Homo sapiens: one gene and its partner. The protein of the gene in region 2 purifies or fractionates together with the protein of the main gene of each other region. This does not show direct contact. Each region holds a gene or a part of one and is shown on either strand. Other genes may lie near its edges. The genes, in order: ZP3 and ZP1.

Region 1 (12,394 bases), on a different chromosome or scaffold from region 2:
GCCATTCTAACTGGTGTGAGATGGTATCTCATTGTGGTTTTGATTTGCATTTCTCTGATGGCCAGTGATGATGTGAGCATTTTTTCATGTGTCTGTTGGCTGCATAACGATTATTCTTATGTTTACAGCAACATGGTTATTTGCATAGATTCAAAAAGAATCTGTTCTCTGGCCAGGCACAGTGGCTCACACCTGTAATCCCAGAACTCCGGGAGGCCGAGGCAGGCGGATCACTTGAGATCAGGAGTTTGAGACCAGCCTGGCCAACATGGCAAAACGCCGTCTCTACTAAAAATACAAAAATTAGCCAGGCGTGGTGGCATGTGCCTGGAATCCCAGCTACTTGGGAGGCTGAGGCAGGAGAATCGCTTGAACCCGGGAGGTGGAAGTTGCTGTGAGCCGAGATTGCACCACTGCATTCCAGCCTGGGTGACAGTGAGATTCTGTCTCCAAAAAAAAAAATAAATAAAATAAAGGAGGGCCAGGCACGGTGGCTCACGCCTGTAATCCCAGCACTTTGGGAGGCCGAGGGGGGCGAATCACGAGGTCAAGAGTTCAAGGTGACTATAGGGAGAAAAATTATATTTCAATAGAAAAACGATAGTTTACCTGTTATTATAGTAATGTTCATTGTTTGAGTTATTTATCTACCTGTAGACTGGATTAGATTCTAGATTCTTCCAGTTTTCTCTAATGTCTGGCTACAATCTCCAGTGAAGAATGAGAACTGGCTGGGCGCGGTGGCTCATGCCTGTAATCCCAACATTTTGGTAGGCCGAGGCAGGAGGAGCACTTGAGGTCAGGAGTTCAAGACCAGCCTGGCCAACATGGTGAAACCCCGTCTGTACTAAAAAAATAAAATAAAATTAGCTGGGCATGGTGGCATGCCCCTGTAATCCCAGCTACTTGGGAGGCTGAGGTGGGAGGATGGTTTGAACCAGAGAAGTCGAGGTTGCAGTGAGTTATGGTGGTGCCACTGCAATCCAGCCTGGGCAACAGAGTGAGACCCCATCTCAAAAAATAAACCCACACCCAAAGTGTTGGTTTACAGAGGCTTTCCAATGCAATAGGAAGCTTCTGGAAACTTTAGGGAAAGAGGAGGATTAAGCAATGGAGTCTAGAGAACCCTCAGTGGCTTGCCACTGCCTTTCATTTCCAGTCTAGTTCCCCTGGGAGGCAGACAGGCCGAGCCCTCTGACATTGCTGCTGGAGGCTGTCTCTCCTGGCAAAGGCCCAGGGAAACTATCCTGCTGAGGCCCATCTGGAGCTGGCAGGGAGCTGACATTCATGGCCACATCTTAGTCATAACTCCTCCCCTCCCCTGACACAGCCACTTCCTCTTTCTGCTGAGAAAAGAAGTTGAATGAAGGACAAGCTCTCAGAAAGTTGCAACCCCTAAGAACTTGAGTACAAGGAAGAGACGGATGTTTATTTCAAGAACCGTTCCCCGATGTCTCCTGGCTCATAGAACAGCTCCAACAACACGTGCTTGGATGCCAAGTGTGCCATGAAGACCAATCCTTGCTATAATCCTGATGGAAAGAACTTCCCCATCTGAAAAGAGGATGGTGATAAGTAAACAGATTGTCAGGGGTAGAAGTACCCGTCGGACCCCAAGCCTGGAGCATTTTGCCAGAGACCTTTTTTTTTTTTTTTTTTGAAACGGAGTCTCGCACTGTTGCCCGGGGTGGTGCAATCTTGGTTCGCTGCAACCTCCACCTCCCGGGTTCAAGCGATTCTCCTGCCTCAGCCTCCCAAGTAGCTGGGACTACAGGCACATGCCACCACGCCTGGCTAATTTTTGTATTTTTAGTACAGATGGGGTTTCACTATGTTGGCCAGGCTGGTCTCGAACTCCTGACCTCGTGATCTGCCCACCTCAGCCTCCCAAAGTGCTGGGATTACAGACATGAGCCACCACGCCCGGCTCAGAGACCTCTTGCATGAGCCATGATTCTACCAAGCGCTCTACTCATTCCCCCAAGAAATCACGTCATCCCCTTTTTACAGATGAAGTTACCTGCTAAGCTAGAAGTGGCAGGAAGAAGCCAGGTGTGGTTTGTGGCTGCTTGGGAGGCTGAGGCAGGAGGAATGCTTGAGCCCAGGAGTTGGAGTCCAGCCTGGGCAACATAGCAAGACCTCGTTTCAAAAAAAAAAAAAGAGTGGCAGATGGGACTAGGGCCTGGGGATATGGCTTCAAGGATGTCTCCCAGCCTGCAGGCCGCATTCTCTGCCATTCCAGTTGATCATCTTGACAGGGAAAGTCTACCGGCACACGCATGCTTAGATGGGCCAGTATCTCCCTTATCTGGCCCATGAGGCCTCCCTCTCCAGGCCAAGCCCCACTCTTTACTAGGCACTGAGGCCTTCCATGCCCCCAGGGCACAGATTCTCCCATTTCTCTCCCCTCTTTTTTTTGAGATATTCTCACTCCAACACCCAGGCTGGAATGCAGTGGCACGCTCTTGGCTCACTGCAACCTCCATCTCCTGGGTTCAAGTGATTCTCCTGCCTCAGCCTCCCCAGTGGCTGGGACTACAGGCACCCACCACACACCTGGCTAATTTTTATATTTTTAGTAGAGATGGGGTTTTGCTATGTTGGCCAGGCTGGTCTTGAACTCCTGGTTTCAAGTGATCCACTCGCCTCGGCCTCCCAAAATGCTAAGATTACAGGTGTGAGCCACCACATCCACCTCCCCATGGTTGAGGATTTGCTTCTGGATCACCACCTCCAGGAAGCCTACCTCTGCAACCCCTAGGCAATTTTGTTTTTTGAGAAGGTCTTGCTCTGTCACTCTGGCTAGAGCGCAGCAGGAGGCAGCAAGGCTGGGACCTGAGCAGTGAGTACAGCTCACTGTAGCCTTGAATTCCTGGGCTCAAGTGATCCTCCAGCCTCAGCTTCCCAAGCAGTTGGGACTACAGGCACGTACCACTGTGCTCGGCTAATTTTTATATTTTGTAGAGATGGGGTCTCACCACGTTGCTCAGGCTGGTCTTGAGCTCCTAGGCTCAAGCCATCTTCCCACTTCGGTCTCCCAAAGTGCTGGCATTACAGGCCTGAACCACTGTATCTGGCGTTTTTGAACCCCAGCCTGTTACTCCCCTACAGATCACACCACAACCTGCTTAGGCCGCAAGCGGCTCACCCGGAACAATCCCTTCGTGCCACAAGTCCCTGGCTCAGTGCCCTTAACCACTCAAATCACCTGGGTTTTTGTTTTTTTTTTTTTTGAGATGGAGTCTTGCTGTTGCCCAGGCTGGAGTACAGTGGCGCGATCTCAGCCCCCTGAAACCTCTGCCTCTCCCGGGTTCAGGCAATTCTCCTGCTTCAGCCTCCCAGCTAGCTGGGATTACAGGCACCCACCACGATGCCCAGCTAATTTTTTGTATTTTTAGTAGAGACGGGGTTTCACCATATTAGCCAAGCTTGTCTTGAACTCCTGACCTCAGGTGATCCACCTGCCTTGGCTTCCCAAAGTGCTGGGATTACAGGCGTGAGCCACCATGCCCACCCCACCCTGGGATTTAAGATGCAAATTTCTAGGTCTGGGATGGGGCTTTAAATGATACATTTCTAACAAATTCTCAGGTGATGCCAACGTTCACAGACCACACTTAGAGTATCAAAGGCCTTCCTGCTCTCAGTAGGTCCAAAGCTACCCAAACCTTGCTCTGAATGCACTATAGACATGTCTATACCCGAGTCAACACGCTGGAGCCCCTGCCCTCAGCCAGAAGGGCCAGAGATAAGCACCATGCCAGTTGCACCTGAGCATCTTTCAGCTTTCATCAGTTTATGCCTAATCCTGCTCAGTAGGTGCCACCCCCATGTTGCCCATGAGGACTGGCAGGCTCACAGCAAGTAGCCAGCCAGGCTGGGATGCTGCAGCGCAAGTGAACTTCCCCGAGTGAGAATGGCTTGAGTTTGGGGCAAGGCTGGAGCCAACTACTGAGGGATGTGAAGCCTCCCACAGAGGTACCATGAACACCTTCCCCAGCAAAGGGGGCACAAGTTCCCTGGGCACCCTCCTTGGGGCACAATTCCCTTATTCACTCCTAGGAACTATGGCTGAAACCTGGGGGAGGGAAGCAGCCTATTTAGGGAGTGCGATAAAGGTAGGGGGAGGTTGAGAAGCAGCTCCCCCCAGTGACAGTGAGGCCTCATGTCTATAATCCCAGTGCTTTTGGAGGCCAAGGAGAGAGATCACGTGAGGCCAGGGGTTCGAGGCCAGCTTGGGGAACATAGCAAGACCCAGTTCCTACCAAAAATAGAATAAATTGGGCACAGTGGGGCTCATGCCTGTAGTCCCAGCAACTCAGGAAGCTCAGGCAGGAGGATGGCTGGAGACCAGGAGTTCCAGGTTGCAGTGAGCTGTGACTATACTACTGCACTCCAGCCTGGGCAACACAGCCAGACCTTTCTCTCAAAAGGGACAAATCAAAACAAAACCAAAACCAAAGCAGGTTCTCAGCTCTCCTGAGGCTTCCTACCCCCAAAGCAAAAGTACCCACCTCAGAGCCACCTCAGGACCACCGGCTTATGACATTAGGCTGCCTCCTGGAATGGCTTGGAGTGCCAGTCACCCCTTGCTGCAGCTTTGACAAGTTCATACCAACATGTCCCAAGAATAGCTTCAAGCCCAAGGTGACAGCTAAGACCAGGCAGAAGCAGTGCTCTGATCACTGCCCTACTGGGAGGGCCCAGTCATGACTGGCCTTCTGGCCTCTAGCATCTGGACAGAGCTGCCTGCCTGCTTGCCTTGGAGAAGTGGGCCTGGAAGCTCTCTCCTCCCCACTCCCATGTCTAGAGTCAAATCCATGGGGGCCAGAGATATAAGATTCTTTGCTAGCCTAGAAGTAAGGTGGGTCCAGCCAGACTGACCTTCATCTAAGAGTTTCCATGTTGGTTCCCATGGAGGTGATAGATTATAGTTGTCTAAGGACATGAACCCTGCCCTGTTTACAGTAGAGACACAGTAGTGCTTGCTGGACTATGCTATGTGAGTGCACGGGGCGGGTGGTATACAGTCGTCCCCACCCGACACAGTCAGTACTAATTCTGACCTTCCATCTGACCACCACACCACGACCAGATATTGCTTTCTTCTTTTATTCGGAAGCAGACACAGGGTGGGAGGCAGTGCGACACCTCCTGGTGAGAACCAGGATAACAGCAGTCAGAGTCAGGGACACCACCACAGCCAGGCCTACGCCCAGCAGCACCACTGAGGTGTCAGAAGGCAAAGCCCACTGCTCTACTTCATGGTCACCCCTCCTGTCCAGGAAGATCAGTGGCCCCACGGTGACATCTGCTTCTTCTGTCACTGTGAAAGGAGAACACACAACCAAGGGTTATCTTAGTCCCTAACCGGGAACTGGGTTGGAGGTTTTATTCTGCCTCAGTGGGCTAAACTAATATGTTGTCTTTTTTGTGTGGGCTAATAAACAGTTTCTAGACAAAAAAAACACAGCTTTCTCGGCCAGGTGTGATGGCTAATGCCTGTAATCCCAGCACTTTGGGAGGCTGAGGCAGGCAGATCACCTGAGGTCAGGTGTTTGAGACCAGCCTGGCCAACACGGCAAGACCCGTCTCTACTGAAAATAAAAAAGTTAACTGGGCATGGTGGCACATGCCTGTAGTCTCAGCTACTTGGGAGGCTGAGGCAGGAGAATAGCTTGAACCTGGGAGGTAGAGGTTTCAGTGAGCAGAGATCGTGCCATTGCTCTCCAGCCTGGAGGACAGAGCTAGACACCATCTTGGTGCAGGGGAGGGGGAAGAAAAAAGAAAAAGACAGCTTTCTCATACGGAGAAAGCAGGTCACCCAAGAGGGATTCCCTAGTACATCATCTTTTTTGTAGAGACAGGGTCTTGCTATGTTGCCCAGGCTGGTCGAGAACTCATGGGGCTCAAGCGATTTCCCTGGCCTCAGCCTCCCCAAGTGCTAGGATTATAGGCACAACCCACTGTTCTGGCCAGATTATTATTTTTTTTTTGAGAGACAGTTTTACTCTTGTTGCCCAGGCTGGAGTACAATGGTGCAATCTCGGCTCACTGCAACCTCTGCCTCCCAGATTCAAGTGATTCTCCTGCCTCAGCCTCCCAAGTAGCTGGGATTACAGGCATGTACCACCACGCCCAGCTAATTTTTTATTTTTAGTAGAGATGGGGTTTCTCCATGTTGGTCAGGCTGGTCTCGAACTCCTGACCTCAGGTGACCTGCCCGCCTTGGCCTCCCGAAGTGCTGGGATTACAGGCCTGAGCCACTATGCCAAGCCAGATTATCTTAACAACTGCTATATTTCCCCTACATGCCTAATTATGTCTCAGTAGAAGCCTAGGATGACAGCAGATCTCCCTGGCTGCCACCGAGGTGGAAGGCTGAGAGCCCCTCCTGCTTAACCCCAAGATTTGTGTTAGGGAAAGGTAGCTGCAGGCCTAGGTACAAACAGTTTTAATGGAGGACAAGGGAAAATACCATCACCCTGAAATGACAGCAGGTACCCTCAACTGAGTAAGGGACAATGAACAGCCTCTTGGCCATTCTGTGACATACCATGCCTGCGGTTACGGGAAGCAGACCTGGACCACTGGCTCATGACATGAGGCTGCCTCCTGGAATGGCTTGGAGTGCCACAGTCACCTTTGTTACAGCATTGACAGATGTCAGCCGAGCCTTCCACTGGGAACCAGCTGAGATGAAAGAGAAGCAGCTTAGATTTTTGTTGCCTGCAGGAAGCAGTTTGCTGATAATATATTGGGGGAAATAGACAAGGGGTCGCCGATTCAGTTTCTACTCCAGTCACGGAGCACCTGTCCTCCTCACCTGTTGGAAGGCTTGCTGAAGGAACAGGCCTTGTTGAGTTCATCTGGGTCCTGCTCAGCTAGGGTGACCTTCAGGTGGCAGGTGATGTATATCTGCAAGGAATAACAGCTATTTCCAGGCCGAGTTCCAGGCTGTGCCTGGGAGTTTAACACACCAGTTCTCTTATAACCCTCAACCCTTTAAAGAGTGAGAAGGGGCCGGGTGCATTGGCACACACCTATAATCCCAGCACTTTGGGAGCCCAAGGCGGGTAGATCACCTGAGGTCAGGAGTTCGAGACCAACCTGGCCAACATGGTGAAACCCCATCGCTACTAAAAATACAAAGTTAGCTGGGCGTGGTGGTGGGTACCTGTAGTCCCAGCTACCTGGAAGGCTGAGGCAGGAGAATCACTGGAACCTGGGAGGCAGAAGTTGCAGTGAGCCGAGATCATGCCACTGCACCCCAGCCTGGCTGACAGAGTGAGACTGTCTCATAAAATAAACAGGGGGAAGGAAGAGCCTCATCTCTAAGATGGTGTAAAGGTTCACTTACCCAATGTTAGAGCAAGTAGCAACTAGTTTTAGACTGGAATCCACCACTTATTCCCCTGATCTTTTCCAAACTTACCCAATCATTGAGCATGCTTGACCCTGGGCTTCTGAGACAGGGCCTGTCACCCAGGCTGGAGTACAGTGGTATGATGATGCCTCACTATAGCCTTGACCTCCTGGGCTCAAGGGATCCTCCCACCTCAGCCTCATGAGCAGCTGGAATTACGGGTACAAGCCACTACACCTGGCTAATTTTGGATTTTTTGCAGAGATGAGGTTTTGCCATGTTGCCCAAGCTGGCCTCAAACTCCTGGGCTCAAGTGATCTGTCCGCCTCAGCCTCCCAAAGTACTGGGATTACAGGTGCCAGCTATCCGTGCCTGGCCAGTCCTGGGCTTAACTCAGCATTGCTAAACCCGCGCCCATCCCCAGGTGACCGAGGTGAGTGGTAGACACCTTAATAGCTAGCAGCTTAGCTGGGCTTCTGACGCTGCCACCTGCCACTTGACTAGTTGACAAGCTACTTTTCTTCAGGGATGTAGTCACTGTATTGCCAGCTAAGGCAAGACCAAGTTGTTTCTGGGACCTGAGGTCCTTGGGCACATAAAGAAGCCTTTTGGACTTGCTTCTGTGGAGTTTCCATTTCAGACTTAAGAGGTTTTTTTTTTTTTTTTTTTTGAGGTGGAGTCTTGCTGTTGCCTAGGCTGGAGTGCAATGGCACGATCTCAGCTCACTGCAACCTCTGCCTCCTAGGTTCAAGCAATTCTCCTGCCTCAGCCTCCCAAGTAGCTGGGATTACAGGCACTTGCCATAATGCCTCGCTAATTTTTTTGTATTTTTAGTAGAGACAGGGTTTCACCATCTTGGCCAGGCTGGTCTTGAACTCCTGACCTTGTGATCCACCTGCCTTGGCCTCCCAAAGTGCTGGGATTACAGGCGTGAGCCACTGCGCCCGGCCAGACTTGAGTTTGATGGCTCACTCTTTGGGCAAGCTTCCCTGGGCTTTTCTTCCTTGCACATACCTCTGCTATTAGTCAAGCCTACGTCAGTCTCCCTTCACCTGTAAGGGATATGACGACCAGAAGACTCACCAGGCTGATACCCTGACAGTCCTGGCCTCTGGGAAACGTTTACCCACCCTCGTTAGACAAGTACGAGGGAATGAACCCAATATGAGCTCCTGCTGGGAGCTGAAAGACCCCCCACCACCCAGGGAATAGTCAACTACCCTGTAAGCACTGCCCCGCTACCCTTTTTTTTTTTTTTTTTTTCTGAGACGGAGTCTGTCTCTAGTCCAGGCTGGAGTACACTGTAGCCACTACCTCCGAGGTTTAAGCGATTCTCTTGCCTCAGCCTCCCAAGTAGATGGGATTACGGGTACCCACCACCACACCAGGCTAGTTTTTGTATTTGTAGTAGAGATGGGGTTTCCCCATGTTGGCCAGGCTTGTCTTGAACTCCTGGCCTCAAGTGATCCACCTGCCTTGGCCTCACAAAGTGCTGGGATTATTGGCATGAGCCACCGTACCTGGCCAAGCCTTCTCATTTTAGACTGACATTCCATCCTGCTGCTGGGGCTAGGGGCCATTCTGACAGAGCCAGGGCTCAGTCTAGCCTTGGCCCGTCCCCAGGTCAGTTTCCCTTCATATTTCAGGCAGGGCTAAAATTCCTCCCTGCTCAACCTCGGGCAGAGCATGGCAATTCTGCCACCTTCCAGCAGAAGCCTCAGAGCCACAAGCCTCAGTCACCACCTAGTGGCCAAGTACACCAGCAGAGAAACTTGAAACCATGTAAATTCAGACTTTTAGAAACAAGCCAGTTTAGCAGTTGTCCAGCTGCCCATCTTAGCCACCTGCCCTGCAAGTAAGAAGCTTCCAAGGCCCTGTTGTCTATTCCACAAAGGAAATGTACTTTCATCCTTAGCTTTTTCCTAGTATGTTTTTCTGGTGCTAACTGGAGTCTAAGATCCCAGGGCAGTTCCCCTATAGCGGCCTTTTAGAAGCAGGGTCTAGGCTGGGCGTGGTGGCTCATGCCTGTAATCCCAGCACTTTGGGAGGCTGAGGTCAGTGGATCACCTGAGGTCAGGAGTTTGAGACCAGCCTGGCCAACATGGTGAAACCCCATCTCTACTAAAAAAAAAAAAAAAAATACAGAAATTAGCTGGGCATGGTGGCAGGTGCCTATAATCCCAGCTACTTGGGAGGCTGGAATGGAAGAATTGCTTGAACCTGGGAGATGGGAAGTTGCAGTGAGCTGAGATTACGCCATTGCACTCTAGCCTGGGCAACAAGAGTGACACTCCATTTCCCCCCAAAAAAAAACAAAAAAAAAAAAAAAAAGAGGGGAGTGTGATAGCTCATGCCTGTAATCCCAGCACTTGCTGAGGCAGGTGGATCACCTGAGGTCAGGAGTTTAAGACCAGCCTGACCAACATAGTGAAACCCCATCTCTACTAAATATTCAAAAATTAGCCAGGCGTGGTGATTGAGTGCCTATAATTCCAACTATTAGGGAGGCTGAGGCAGGAGAATGGCTTGAATAAGGAGGTGGAGGTTGCAGTGAACCGAGATCATGCCATTGCATTCCAGCCTGGGTGACAGAGCGAGACTCTGTCCAAAAAAAAAAAAAAAAAAAAAAAGTACACAGGGTCTTGCTCTGTTGAGGGCAATAGCACCATCATAGCTCACTGCAGCCTTAAACACCTGAACTCTGATCCTCCCACCTCGGCCTCCCAAGGTGCTGGGATTACAGATGTGAACCACCGTGCCCAGCCACCCTATTGCTCTGAAATAGGGTTGTTCCTTCTTTGTGCCATGGGACATAGTCTACTGAGGCATCATCAATCCTACCTTTGAAGGGGGGCCCTCCAAGGGCTCAGACTATCTTCCATTAAACAGCACTGTTCTCTGGTCTTAGTTACCCCTCAACCCCCAGAGATTGAGAAACCACCTCAGTCCATACCCATGCTGACCGCTACCACCTCTGTGAAAACTTCTCTCCATCTTCTTCCCAAATGGCCACACCTGAGGTCAATCTTGACTTCCTCCCACAACCAGGATCCTCTCCCCTAAGGAGCTATCGGTCACTGATCCGAGGGCCAGGACTCTTTTCCCAAATCTGCCCTCCTTTATCCCCAGCCCCACTGAAGCAGGGCCCACCACTGAGAGCTTCAGGCCATCTCATCAATATTAGATGCTTTTCCCTTTTGCTACCCTACTGATCTGTGTGTTGATCTTTCTCTTCCCACAAGGCAGCTGCTGGAGGAGGTGAAGTGGCATCGATGTCATCTTTGAAAAGTTTCTACTTTGTCCCTTAATGCCACCCTGACGTATGAGCCTCTGCTTCAGAGGTTTGCAAGCCTGGCTGCGTATTAGAGTCACCTAGGAGCTTAAGTGGCTTTTGATGCATTTCCAAGTAGAATAAGGTAGGTCAGTAGATGGAGGATAACAGTAAAATGCTAGCAGGCCGGGTACAGTGGCTCACGCCTGTAATCCCAGCACTTTGGGAGGCCAAGGCAGGTGGATCGTTTGAGGTCGGGTATTCAAGACCAGCCTGGCCAATATGGTGAAACCATCTCTACTAAAAATATAACAGGCACTCAGTAGTGGCGTATGCCTACAATCTCAGCTACTTGGGAGGCTAAGGCAGGAGAATCGCTTGAGCCTGGGAGGTGGAAGTTGCAGTGACCTAAGATTGGGCCACTGTACTCCAGCCTGGGTGACAGAGACCCTCTCAAAAAAAAAAAAAAAAAAAAAAAAAAAAAAAAAAAAAAAAAAAAAGGGGGCGGGGGGCGCGTGGTGGTTCATGCCTATAATCCCAGCACTTTGGGAAGCTGAGGCGGTTGGATAATGAGGTCAAGAGTTCAAGACCAGCCTGGCCAAAATGATGAATCCCTGTCTCTACTAAGAAATACAAGGATTAGCCGGGCATGGTGGCAGGCGCCTACAATCCCAGCTACTCAGGAGGCTGAGGCAGAATTGCTTGCACCCGGAGGCAGAGGTTGCAGTGAGCCAAGACCGCACCATTGCATTCCAGCTTGGGTGACAGAGTGAGACTGTCTCAAAAAAAAAAAAAAAATGCTGGTGGTAGAACCTAGATGGTGTGCACACTGAAGTTCATGGAGTTTTACAGCAAACACCTATGAAGATTTAGTTAATGTTACAAAATGTGACACCATGCCCTACCCCAATAGAGTGAAGGTATGAGACTCTCTACAATCAGTATTTTTACAACCTCTCCAGATGATTAGTATAGAGCCAGCACTGGAAACCCCTACTTTAATCACTTCCTAACCACCTATTCTAAGCTCACCGCCTCACCTCTCATCTCAGTGAGCTTGTTTAAAAGCTACTTGAGGCTGGGCATGGTGGCTCACGCCTGTAATTCCAGCACTTTGGGAGACCGAGGCAGGCGGATCACCTGAGGTCAGGAGTTTGGGACCAGCCTGGACAACATGGTAAAACCTTGTCTCTACTAGAAATACAAAAAAATTAGCCAGGCATGGTGGCGGGTACCTGTACTCCCAGCTACTTGGGAGACTGAGGCAGGAGAATCACTTGCACCTGGGAACCTGGAGTGGCTGGGACTACAGGTGCCCACCATCATGCCCAGCTAATTTTTTGTATTTTTAGTAGAGGGGGTTTCACCGTGTTAACCAGGATGGTCTCAATCTCCTGACCTCGTGATCTGCCCGCCTCAGCCTCCCAAAGTGCTGGGATTATGGGCACGAGCCACCGCACCAGGCAATTTACTTCTAACCACTTACCAGTACTTCCCGGCTAGATGTTGGTCCTTGCACCTGCACTTCCTACTGCATCCCTCCCCCACCTCAGCCATTAGGCAGTTCCCATCTTCATTCCTTCCTTCTCCTTCCCTCTTAGTGTCAATTTGAGTTTTCTAGTTTAGGTTCTCAAGGGGAGGACCCAGACTGGCAGAACCAACACTTAAGAATGCAGATTCTAGGCTTCACTAGACCACCTGAATCAAACCCTGGGTTGGGGCCCAGTCATCAATTTCAACAAGCCCTCCAGCTGAGG
Region 2 (11,040 bases):
TCTCCTTCAGTCTGAGGATTTGACTGCACACACCAGAGAAGAAGGAATTACACTTTTCATTCTCAAGGTGATTTTTTTTTTTTTCAATACATCCTGCCCCATGATAAAAATAGGCAGGATTCCTTGCTGCCCACTTTTGCCAGAGGCTTGTTTCTCCTTCACTCTTGCACTGAGGACTGGGACCTCTGAAGTTCCAGCTTTAGAGGAGGCCCTGCATCTGGACTTGTTGCCTTTGTAGGCTCCGGGCTTGATCTACAGTTCCCTGGACTCATCAAAGCAGAAGGCCAAGGTCTCCAGAGTCCTGTAGAACTTCCCAGAATAGAAGCTGATTTTACTTCCCAGAGTTTTTGCTTTTTATTTTTGGCCTATCTGCACGCCTCATTCCCCATGTTAATTCAACACTAGTCTAAGAATATTTTAAAATATTTATAATCTGGTATTTTAGTTGTTTACTTCAGGTTGATCCAAGTATCTAGTGTTCCTACTGCTGGAACAGAAGTGGCACTTTTCCATGAAATGTTCTCACATAAGTGTCCAGACAGGGAGTTGAATTCAGCTGAACTAACAGGCGGTGAAGTATTCTGTCCCCTTTATTAAAAACAAAGCACCATGAAGTTAATTTGCTCTCAATGTATAATGTAAGTATATGGAAGCTGGTGGGGGCCTGGGGAATGGAAAGACAGGGGATTCCCTTAGGTCTTATATAGATATAGCCACAGCCTCTGCCCCCATCCCCATCCCCACCTCCCCAAAAGGGCAGGAAGAGACAAAACCTGACGGGCCCTGAGCAGCTCTGCTTCCTGCCACAGGTCAGAGACAGTGGTTATTGTCCCCATCGGGTCTGATGAATTGTTCTCAAGGTCCAGCAGGGGCCTGCTCACATCAGGAGGCAGTAAGAAGGGAGGAAGAAAGCTTTAAATTGGGCAAAATTTAGACTAAATTTTGTTATCTAGGAAAGCCAAAGTTTAGATTGCTTCCCCCGAGAGAAAGCTAGCACTGCAGTGAACTTCATTGTTCATATAGTTTGTATATTTGTTTCAGTAAACAGACTCCTTTGACATGGAATTGTTGACAAAATCTATGCACAATTTATCAGTTGCCAAAATCATGTACCTATATACACTTGGAAGTAGGAGATACACAATTGCATTGTTACTGGAATATCACAATAAAGCAAATGGATACTTGGATGATTATATAGGATAGGGGAAAGTCTTTGCCATACTCAAAAATACAAATATGAGAGGGAAAAATTCATTGTTACATAATCCTTTCTAAGATAAAAGAACCCGGCAGAGAAAAGCCAATGGCCAATTAGATGGAAAATTTATAAAATGAGGATACTGGCCCCTTGATTTGTGAAAGCTCTTTACAGATGAGGAGAGAAATAGTGGAGAGTAGATAAAAGACATGAAGGGTAACTTATGCGATACCAATGGCTAGAAAGATGCTTGACTTCTAATCAAAAAGAGCCCCTTCAAAACGGCCAATGCCATTTGCCTTATGATGCTCAGATAGGCAAAGATTTAGAGTGTTACTGGCCTGTGGTGGCAAGCCTGCACAGTGGGATTGGGTGGGGAGACACTCAGACAGTCCCGAGTCCCACAGTCATAAGAGGTGTGGTCTTGACCCAGCAGTTCTAAGACTGTCTTTCAAGAAAATAGTATACAAAGAACTATATGCTTAAGTAATTGTGTTCAACACTCGTCATCCTTAACCCACTTGGTCTCTATCAACAGATCAAATATCATAGTTCAACCGCAGTTTAGAGACTACCTCTATTTGAAATGATAGGAAATGACACAAGACATCCACCCTTGTGTTAAAGCAAATTCAGTTACACAGCATTATTCCAATTGGTACCTCTGGAAGTTTGAAATCCTTACATGAGCTTGTATGATGGAGGGAGGGGAAGGAGGAGGAGTTAATGCTGGAAGGAACCAGAACCCAGGCCCCTAAGACCAAGTCAACCTGGCTTCTCCAACCAGCCAAGCTAAGAATCCTCACCTATATCACACTGACCCTGCAGGATATATCCTGTGTCTCCCTGTACAAGCCAGGAAGTTGGGCAGGGCAAGACTGGCCGTTGCTAGCCATAGATGGGAAGACAGGCCCAGAGAAGGGAAGTCACTTAGCTTCCATGGCAAATGTTTGGGCCTTCCTGCCTTTTATGTTCTCCCTCTAGCTAGAAGAGTCAAAAGACAGCAGTTTCCCCTAGCCCCTCTTCGTATTGGCCTGTAAACTTGTACATACAAAACCAAACCAAAACATTGACAACAAAAACTAAGTAAGCATTAGGCTTGGGGCAAGAGGAAATGCAATTCTAGTCAGTAGTTAATAGCACCCAGTTACTGTTGGCCGTTATGTACTATTCTAAGCATTCTTATCTGTTAACTCATTTTACCCAATACTTCTATGGGAATAGACATTAACCTCATTTTACAGATGAGAAATCTGAGGCCCAGGGAAGTTGAGTAACTTACTGAATATCACACAGCTAGTAAGAAGCCAGCTCTGGGGTCCACATGCTTGTCCAGTATTCTGAAGACAGGAAAGGCTGAGTAGGCCAGAGCTGGATGAGTAGGGGGTACATGCAGTATTAAGGCCACAGGCATGACTTGAGTACCTCAGCTCCTCTTGTAACAGCTCTCTAAGCTCGTGCTCTACCTGAAGTCCGGAAAGGTGTCTGAAACCAAGTTCAGGCTTCCCTACCAGATTCTTCTCCCTGTCCCATTGAGGCCAAACCCTAGCATCCTGTCCCCTTCTCCACCTAGAGGATTGACATGTCTAGAAAGGGCTTTGCTGCCAAGTCAGAGATGAAGGCCCATGCCATACATGGGCAAACTGGGCTCAGCGGCATAGCCAGCACTGGCACAGACCTGTCTGGTGGCCATGCCCACCATCGCAGCCAGTGTCAGGGCCAGCAGGCTGCCATTCCTCCTGTGCCAGCCCTTCCCACATGGATAGTCTTGGGAGGCCAGGGGAAGGGATGGGAGGCTGTGGTCAGAAATGCAGCCTTTAGCGGTAGGCTGGCAGGCTCAGGGGGTCTGTGAAGTGCTCCTTCAACTCAGTCTTAGAGTAACCCTTATCCATGACAGCAGCTGCTCAGGGTGCTTTGAGGATGCCCTTGTCAGAACTTCTGTGTCTGTGAGGAGGTGACAAGCCTTCACAAGCCATTCATTCCTGCCAGGGGCCCAGTTCCCAGCTGTTGGTGTTCTTTGACTGTCAATGTCTTAACCTCCAGTATCTTTGTCCTGTTTGCTCTGCCTGAAATGCCACCGTTCCTTGTGGAGAGGCAGAGGCTCCCGAGTTGAGCCTTGGGGGACATTGGCCTCTGTGCAGGGTGTGGCATATATGAAGTATTTGTAATCAACGTCACAGTTTTGGAAGGACAGAGCTGACTTGGAGGAAGTTTCTCACATAAGAAATAGTTCTGTTCTAGTCGTCACAAATAACTTCTCCACACCTGGTTTCAGTAGGTTTGAAATGATTGTTTATTGGGCCCATTCACTGTCTGTTGCTTTCCCAGAGCTTCTGGGCCCAGGTCTGGCTCAGGCCCACAAAGACACCAAACCCAAGGACCAGGGCAACAGCTGGCAGCAAAAGGACCGCCCAAAGGAGAGGTCTCAGGCTGGAGTTCCCATTGGAGTCTGTCAGAGAGACGGGATTGGCAGGGCTGGGTGAGGCCCCTCCAACCCTCCCCTCCACCCCAGAACTTTGTATCACACTGGGCAGAGCTGAAGCTGCCTTTCTGCAGATGAGGTGGACTGTGTCTGTCTTCACTTAGTTCCCCACTGACTGCAGTGACACCATCTCTTGCCCTCAGCTATGGCTGGAGCATCCCTGTTTTGTCAGCACAATCTTGGGGGCTGAGAGTGGGTAAGGCCTGAGGGGCCCACCCAGAAGCCCTCCTACCTGTGGGCCCAAGTGTGGGCTCCTGCCCATAAGAATCCTCAAAGCCCACTGGCCCCGGAGAGCTCACGATGTCCTGGGGCCTGGCAGTGTCATTACGGTGACCTGAGGATCGTCGCTGTCCTGCCCAGGGGAAGAATGAAATCTTGGGCTGGTCTCCTGCCCCTGTGGCCCAGAGGCCAGGCACAGGCCTGAAGATGTATAAAGGAACAAATACCACTCGCAACCCAGACTCACTTGTAGTGCCAGTGCTACATGCAGTGGAGCAAGTCTCCAGCCCTGAGGTGTGGCAGGCAGAGGTGCTGCAGAACAAGTAAACCTGGTGGAAGGAGAAGAACATCAAAGTGGCTGGCTCAGTGCCACCGGGCAGGAAGCACAAAGGGAAGGACATGGAATCCCCGAGCTGGGCCAAGTCTAGGCTGCTGCTAGCCAGGCAGGGAGAAATCTGAGCTGCTTGACCAAGATGATGACTGCTGCCCATGCTGAGGGAGTGCAGAGCTGAATGTGTTCCTTCCAGATTTGAAATCCACACCTTCCTTGCTCCCCAAGGTCCAAGTCTGCAGTGGAGTGCCCTGCAGGCGGGGACCACCGCACTTCGTAATGCCCCAGTCCTTGGCGGGCCTGCTTCACCAATGCTGCCTCTGGCTGCACAGCCCCTGGGAGGGCTGGCTCTCTCCCTTCCACCTGCCCTACTGAGGGAGACAGCAAATTCCAAGGAGGTGGGACTTGGCCAGGCAGCAGGATAATAGATGTTTGCCCTCCCTTTGTGACCCCTGGAGACCAGTGACTGGGGGCAGAGGGGAGGGCAGATTACCACCGCTTCCAGATACAGAAGGGCAGGGGCAGTGCCCTACGGGACCAGAAGCAGGAGGAGCTGACCCAACCCAGCACCCAGGAGGCCCCACTCATGGGCAGCACACAGCAGAGATGAGAACGAAGCCACACTAACCAGTGCTTCCAAGTGAAATCAGTCTACATCTGACATAATAACAGGCAGTGATTTAAGAATCTAGAGATTTGGGTATGTGATGTGAAAGATACGTTGTTCAATGGGACAAGTGCATCTGTCACCTCTGAGGCCATCTGTATATTACATAGGAGACCTAAATATACCCTGAGTTTATCTACCTTTACCTTCTGGAGAAGTTGCTGAGTTAAAGAAAATTCAAAGAATTACATGGAACACATTATCATTTCTGGAATCAGAAGTGAGGTGAGGCCACCCTAGAACACCATGACCAGAGTTCAGATTTAGGGCTGATTGCAGCACAGGCAGCATTTTCCTTCCTCCTGGTGGTGGTTATGGGTTACCTTCTTGCTGACCCGAAGCCCGCTGCTTTCCATGACACCTGGTAGACGCCAAGCCCCATCCCAGAACTTTGTCCATATAAGTTCACAGGGTGCCAGAGGGATTTGGCGACCAGCTCCTCCCACTTAACAGATGGGACCAGGCATGCGGCAGCCGGGGCTTCTTACCAGTCCTCTGAGGGCTCTCTGGGAGCCTGAGTCCAGGAGGGCGAAGGTAGCAACAGTGAATCGCTGGTAGTGCGACTGGAAAGGTGTGGCCCCGTCCAAGGCTACCATTTGGGTTCTGTAGCTGTCGCCCTTGAAAGGGCATCTGAGAAGAGAAGTCAGAGAGGCTGTTTACAGGAGGCAGAGCAGGTGGGGGGAGTGTGGGGGCACTCACCCGTCTGACAGGATGGGCCACTGGGGCTGCTGGAAGGGGTTGGCACTGGGAGCGCCCCAGCACTGGTGCAGCAGCAGGACCAGGTTGGGGTCTGTCCTCTGCAGAAGCCGGACCTCCACATGGACTGGTTCTCGGAGCAGCCTCACGATGGGATAGTCATCCTCCCCATAGTACGAGCTGAAGGTCTCGTCTGCAGGGAGAGTGACTCATGAGCCAGGGCGGGCTGTGCATCAGGGAAGTGGGGGCCAGAAGAGAGCAGGGATAGCATAGCATACCTTTGGCAATCCGCAGCTCAAGCCGCAGGGGGCCGGGCTGGGTCATAGGAGCAGGCGATGGGGGTGGGAAAATGGATGCCTGAATGGGCAGGAAGTCACTGGCGTTGAAGACACAGCGCACATGAAGCCTGAAGTCCACGTGCAAGAGGGTGGGGGAGAAGACACAGAATCAGAGCATCCTGTTTACGTAATAAACTAGGCACCAACTCCGTGGGTGCAACAAATAGGGTACTGTCCAGCAGGGCAGATGGATGCTACTTAAGCAATACTCAGCATTTCCAAGGCAGGCTCAGGAAGCTCACCCTGCCCATTCCTCTGCCCACCTGGTCTCCCTGGGATGGCTCAAGCCTGTTATGCCAGGCCCTGCACCTGGTGGGAGAATACAGCAGGATAGAGATGGGCCCTCGGGGGGCTGGCACCTTGTTGGGTCTGCCCTGGCTACCCACAGCTGCCTGCTGTGCCGTTCGAGGCCCCTGGAGCCTGACAGTTGAGGCTGGTGAATGAGCCTAGGTGCTCTGCCTCCCGACAGACCTGGATTTGAGTCTTCTTAGCATTTACAGGCTTTGGGACCACAAGCAAGTCTTCTAACCTAAGCCTCAGTGTCCTCATTTGTAAAATGGCTGTGACTGCCTCCCTTTGAGGGCACTGAGACTGAGTGAGATCACAAGATAATGCACCTGTGTCTTCATTGTCCTTGTAGTTGCAGCTGGTTTGCCACAGCCTAAAGGCCACAGTGTCTAGCATCTTCCTCACTAGCCTAAGGGCCATGGTGGCCACTCCTCCACACTCTGGTGGGGCCAACACCCTCCTAGCACCCCAGAGGCCTGGTACCAAGGAGATGCTGAGTAGGTATAGGAGGCTCACCCCTGTTCTGAAGGCCTTGTGTCTGAGGAGCTCTCTGGCCTAGTCCTGCTGGCTACAGCTGTTTCCCCCTGACTTCTGCCTCCCTCTGAGAATCCCTAGGCACTCTGTTGACCTCTGGCTGACTCCCAGAGCTCTTACATCAGAGAGTCTAAAGGCATGACACAGACTTGTCCTCCACCACTTGGCCATAAGAACATATGGGTTTTTTTAAATTAAAATAAAAAATAGAAATGGGGTCTCGCTGTGTTGCCCAGGCTAGTCTTGAACTTCCAGCAATTCTCCCACCTAGGCCTCCCAAAGCGCTGGTATCATAGGCGTGAGCTACCACCTCTGTGCTACTTAGAGCTTTAAAGCCAAATACATTTGAACTGTGACACAGTCCCCTGCTCCCCAACCCTCACGGCAGGGCGGGAAGGGGAAGGAGATGCCCAGCAACCATGCAGTGTCAAGCACAAGATTTCTACAACCCATTGGCTCCGTCCCACAGGGTGAAGGTTAGGTGCTTTGCCCCTGGTCACACAGGTTCAGAGCCAGGCATGACAGACAGATTCCCTCGGGTCACCCCCACTGGCATCCTGGGCACCTGGGTTGGTTTTGCCTCTTGAGTCAGCAGGTCCAGGAGGCCCCTAACAATGAGGGGTTCCTCCCCCACCCAGTTCCTCTCCCACCACATCCTCAGAGAGGTATCTTCAGCTTCATCTGTGGCTTCTTAACCTGACATTAGGAGGGGCAACAGCCGTAGCCTCAGCCTCCTCCTGGGACCTGGAAGGGGACACTTTCAGTTGCTTTGAGCTTGGTTCTTGGAGAGACCAAGACAGGGCTCTCTCAGGACTCCAGCTCTCTCAGGACTGGCCCTGGGCTTCTAGCCAAGCCCTGCAGGCCAGGCATGGAAGGGCTCCACTTAACACTCATGTCTGCCCTGAGAGAGGGACATTTCCCCTGCCCAGCAGGGGAGGCTGGGAAGAGGTGGGCCCCTTGCCTAAGATCACATAGCCGGGTAACAGCAGAGCCTGGGTTTGAGCTGAGATGGCTCCGAAGCCTGTACTGAGCTCGCCTGTGCCCCTGACACCCTAGCACACAGCCACGCCTGTAGGAGGAGGGCTGCCCTTACTGGAAGGTGCTGTCCCGCGTGATGGAACCCTGTGGCCCCTTTTGGATGTGGATGCCAGACACCAGCCAGTTCTCATAGATGAGCTGGTCGCCAGCCACCTGTAGGAAGAGACAGCTGGGTGAGGCTTTCTGGTGGGGGACCAGGCCCCAGCCTGTGGTCCCGGCTCCTACCTGCATTGTGGTTCCACAGTGGGTGAGAGGGAAGTAGAAGACCACGAAAGCTTCCGTGTGCTGTGTTGGGGAGCAGCTGGTGGGGGCATAGGCCAGGTGGATGTTGGCCAGTGTGATCCTGTGTGTCAAGGCCATTTCTTGGGACACCACGAGGACGAAGTAGCCATCTCTGAAGCACTGGACAGTAGCTGGGACAAAGGCAGATGAGGGCCTTGGGGTTTGGTGTCCATCCAGCACAGAGACGGGATGGCTGGGTGACAGCCAGGCTTTAAGTGCCGGTCTAGGAGAATGGACGCTTACTCTCCACTTAGGCTGGTGTTGGCCCCAGCAAACCCTTTATGGACTGATTTTCTCATCCATGTGACAAATGAGTTGAACTACACTCTAAAAGTAGGTTCACCATATAATCTGTCATCCAAACCAGGGCGTTTCAGATCTGAAAGTCCAGATGTGTGTAAGGTAGATCTATTAATAGTTCCCTGGGACAGTTGTTATAAGGCCAGCTGGGACATGTGACCGCCCCATCTAAAGGTCTCCTCTGCCATCTGCTCTGGGAGTTGGGCTCTCCAGGAGGAGGATAGGAAGCAGTTTCCACCAGCTGGAGGAGACAGCTCTCCTTCCGCTTCAGAATCCAAGGGACCAGGATCTTGCTGGGGTGGGAGGTTGTACCTGTGTTGCCATAGTAACAGGGAACCTCTCTGGTGTTGTCATAGCAGCAGCCAGCCTGCTGACAGGCTTCTTTTGAAGTTCTTCTCACGATGCAGGGGAGGTGCCCTGAGGCCACCTGGCACTGCTCCTGGCTCAGGTGGGTACCTAGGGTTGGGACAGAGTGATGAGGCTGAAGGCACACAGTTTGCAAATCATGGCCCTGGAATTGAATCTTGGGAACCTGCTCCAGAGCTTGTGCTCTTAGCCAGCACAGTAAATGTCCTCCCTCAAAACTGAATATTACTGAAATTTCTAGAGAATATTTTCTGAGAATCAGGTGTTGCTGGCAATGGTTTCAATGAGTTTCTGCCTAAAGTTAGGAAACAAATTTACAAGACCTCTTCTAGCTTTAGTACACCTATACATGTTTAAAGCTGTTTTCCAAATACTACAAAGGAATAAAAGAATCATCTTTTTCTAAAAAAAGAAAAAAACAAAAAAAGAAATGGCTTAGAGCCCAGTAAAAGGCTGTTAGGCCACCCTGTACTCCAGAAGTCCCCAGACAGAGGGTAAGTACACTCAGATGTCCTGCGTACCTATGTAATCTCGTTTGTTCACATCCCAGTGTTCCAAGGTGCCCCAGTGGGGTTGAGCCAGGGTGGCGAGGGTAGGTCCAGGTCCAGGGGATGGTAAAGCAGGGGTTGGGTGGACAGAGCTGTGCCCTGGGTCCAGTGGGCTGGGAAAGGCATGGCCAGAGCCTTGGGAGGTATGGCCAGAGGTGGGGAGGAAGGAAAGGGTTTGTGGGGTTGAGACAGAGAACATGGCGGGTGGTGCCAGCTGGGAGTCCAGAGTCCGGGAGGGGTCAGGTTTGGGACAGATCAGAGTAGCGTCTTGTGCCACATCCACACGACCATTGGGCAGCACAGCCTCCATGAACACCCTCAGGTGGAAACGCCCATCCTGCAGGTGAGAGGCCATCATAGAGCAGCAAGGTGAGGCCACCTAGCATACCCAGGCAGGGGACGGGCCCACGAGAGCTGAGCTGGCCATTAGGCAGGGAGCTGGATTCATGGTGGATTCCAGAAAGTACCTTCCAGAGCTTAGTTTCCCTCACCCACCAGCTCAACAGATCTTCGGCTTTGGCTCCTTTCTGGTTCATGAGGGGCCTCTTCAGCCTGACATGACACTAGGACAAGCTTGCCCCTGTGCCAGAGCATGAACAACCCCTACCTTCTCCAGCACGTGGCAGCCTCTGTAATCGGCCGAGAAGACTGCAGGCTCCTGCGGCCTGGAGGTGACCCAGTGGTAGCAGATGGAGCAGTTGTTGACATCAAATCGGTTCCCAAATTCATCTGCAGTGGGGGAAGGGGAGGGGCCAGGGATGTTGAAGGGTGCAGGGAGAGGTTGCTGGGGTCTCGGAAGGAGTTCCCACTCAGCAGCCAGGAGACCTGGGTTCTTGCCTTAGCTTTGCTATTAGTTTGTTGTGTGGTCTTGGGCAAGCCCCCTCCCCTCTCTGCTCTCAGTTTCCACAGCTGTAAGGGGATGGGAGGGTCTTAGGATCTTTCTAGCTAGGGTTCCCTGCTCACAGCACACGGCAGCAGGCAGGCACGAAGATGAGGTGGAGAAGGGATACACAGGGTCTCAGGCACTGGCCTGAGTATTTCACATCACTTCTTTTAAGCTTAGTTATCCACATCCTGTGGCTGAGGCAGCTGAGGAAGGGAGGGTGCGTGAGCTTTCTTAGGTGCACACAATGAGGGGCAGAATGAGGATTTGAATCCTGGGCTTTGTAGAAAGATCTGAACCCATTTCCCAGGTTAACTGTGGCTGCTGCAGTTGCTTGGAGACACCCCCTAGGTGTCCACCCTGCTTGTTGCCCCAGAACAGCCTGGGCATTCCCTGGGTGTGGGCATGTCCCCATGCCCTTGTTCCATGAGCACGGCCAGGTTCATCTTCCCCACCTTGCAGATGAGGAAACAGAGGCTTATGAGTCAGGTCAGTTGTCCAAAATCATCCCGTTTAGAAGCTGCAGATCCAAACCCCAGTTCTAAACCCACACCAGGCCACGCCTACTAGGTCCTGCTGCTGGAAGTGGTTTATGGACCCTCAGCCTCAGTTTTGACTGAGCGTGGTTAGAGATGCAGAGCCTAGGCTGGGTGCAGTGGCTCACGCCTATAACCCCAGCACTTTGGGAGGCTGAGGCAGGTGGATCACCTGAGGTCAGGAGTTCGAGACCAGCCTGACCAATATCGTGAAACTCCATCTCTACTAAAAATACAAAAAGTAGCTGGGCGTGGTGGCACACACCTGTAGTCCCAGCTACTAAGAGGCTGAGGCAGGAGAATTGCTTGAACCTGGGTGGTGGAGGTTGCA

The links.
Region 1: the proteins of ZP1 (region 2) and ZP3 purify together in Homo sapiens (co-immunoprecipitation; 2 studies listed by IntAct). This does not show direct contact.

The regions. Positions count from the first base shown.
Region 1 is NC_000007.14:76,434,774-76,447,167, reverse strand, and holds the end of ZP3 (zona pellucida sperm-binding protein 3 isoform 1 precursor), read right to left. Parts: intron 6,919-12,394; coding exon 6,827-6,918; intron 6,694-6,826; coding exon 6,557-6,693; intron 5,327-6,556; coding exon 5,112-5,326; 3' UTR 5,099-5,111; downstream 1-5,098. UniProt on the Homo sapiens protein: Component of the zona pellucida, an extracellular matrix surrounding oocytes which mediates sperm binding, induction of the acrosome reaction and prevents post-fertilization polyspermy.
Region 2 is NC_000011.10:60,868,124-60,879,163, reverse strand, and holds the end of ZP1 (zona pellucida sperm-binding protein 1 isoform 1 precursor), read right to left. Parts: intron 10,020-11,040; coding exon 9,898-10,019; intron 9,628-9,897; coding exon 9,264-9,627; intron 8,833-9,263; coding exon 8,689-8,832; intron 8,672-8,688; exon of another isoform or gene 8,208-8,671; coding exon 8,020-8,207; intron 7,948-8,019; coding exon 7,850-7,947; intron 6,003-7,849; coding exon 5,875-6,002; intron 5,790-5,874; coding exon 5,600-5,789; intron 5,531-5,599; coding exon 5,389-5,530; intron 4,232-5,388; coding exon 4,150-4,231; intron 4,036-4,149; coding exon 3,916-4,035; intron 3,651-3,915; coding exon 3,508-3,650; 3' UTR 3,477-3,507; downstream 1-3,476. UniProt on the Homo sapiens protein: Component of the zona pellucida, an extracellular matrix surrounding oocytes which mediates sperm binding, induction of the acrosome reaction and prevents post-fertilization polyspermy.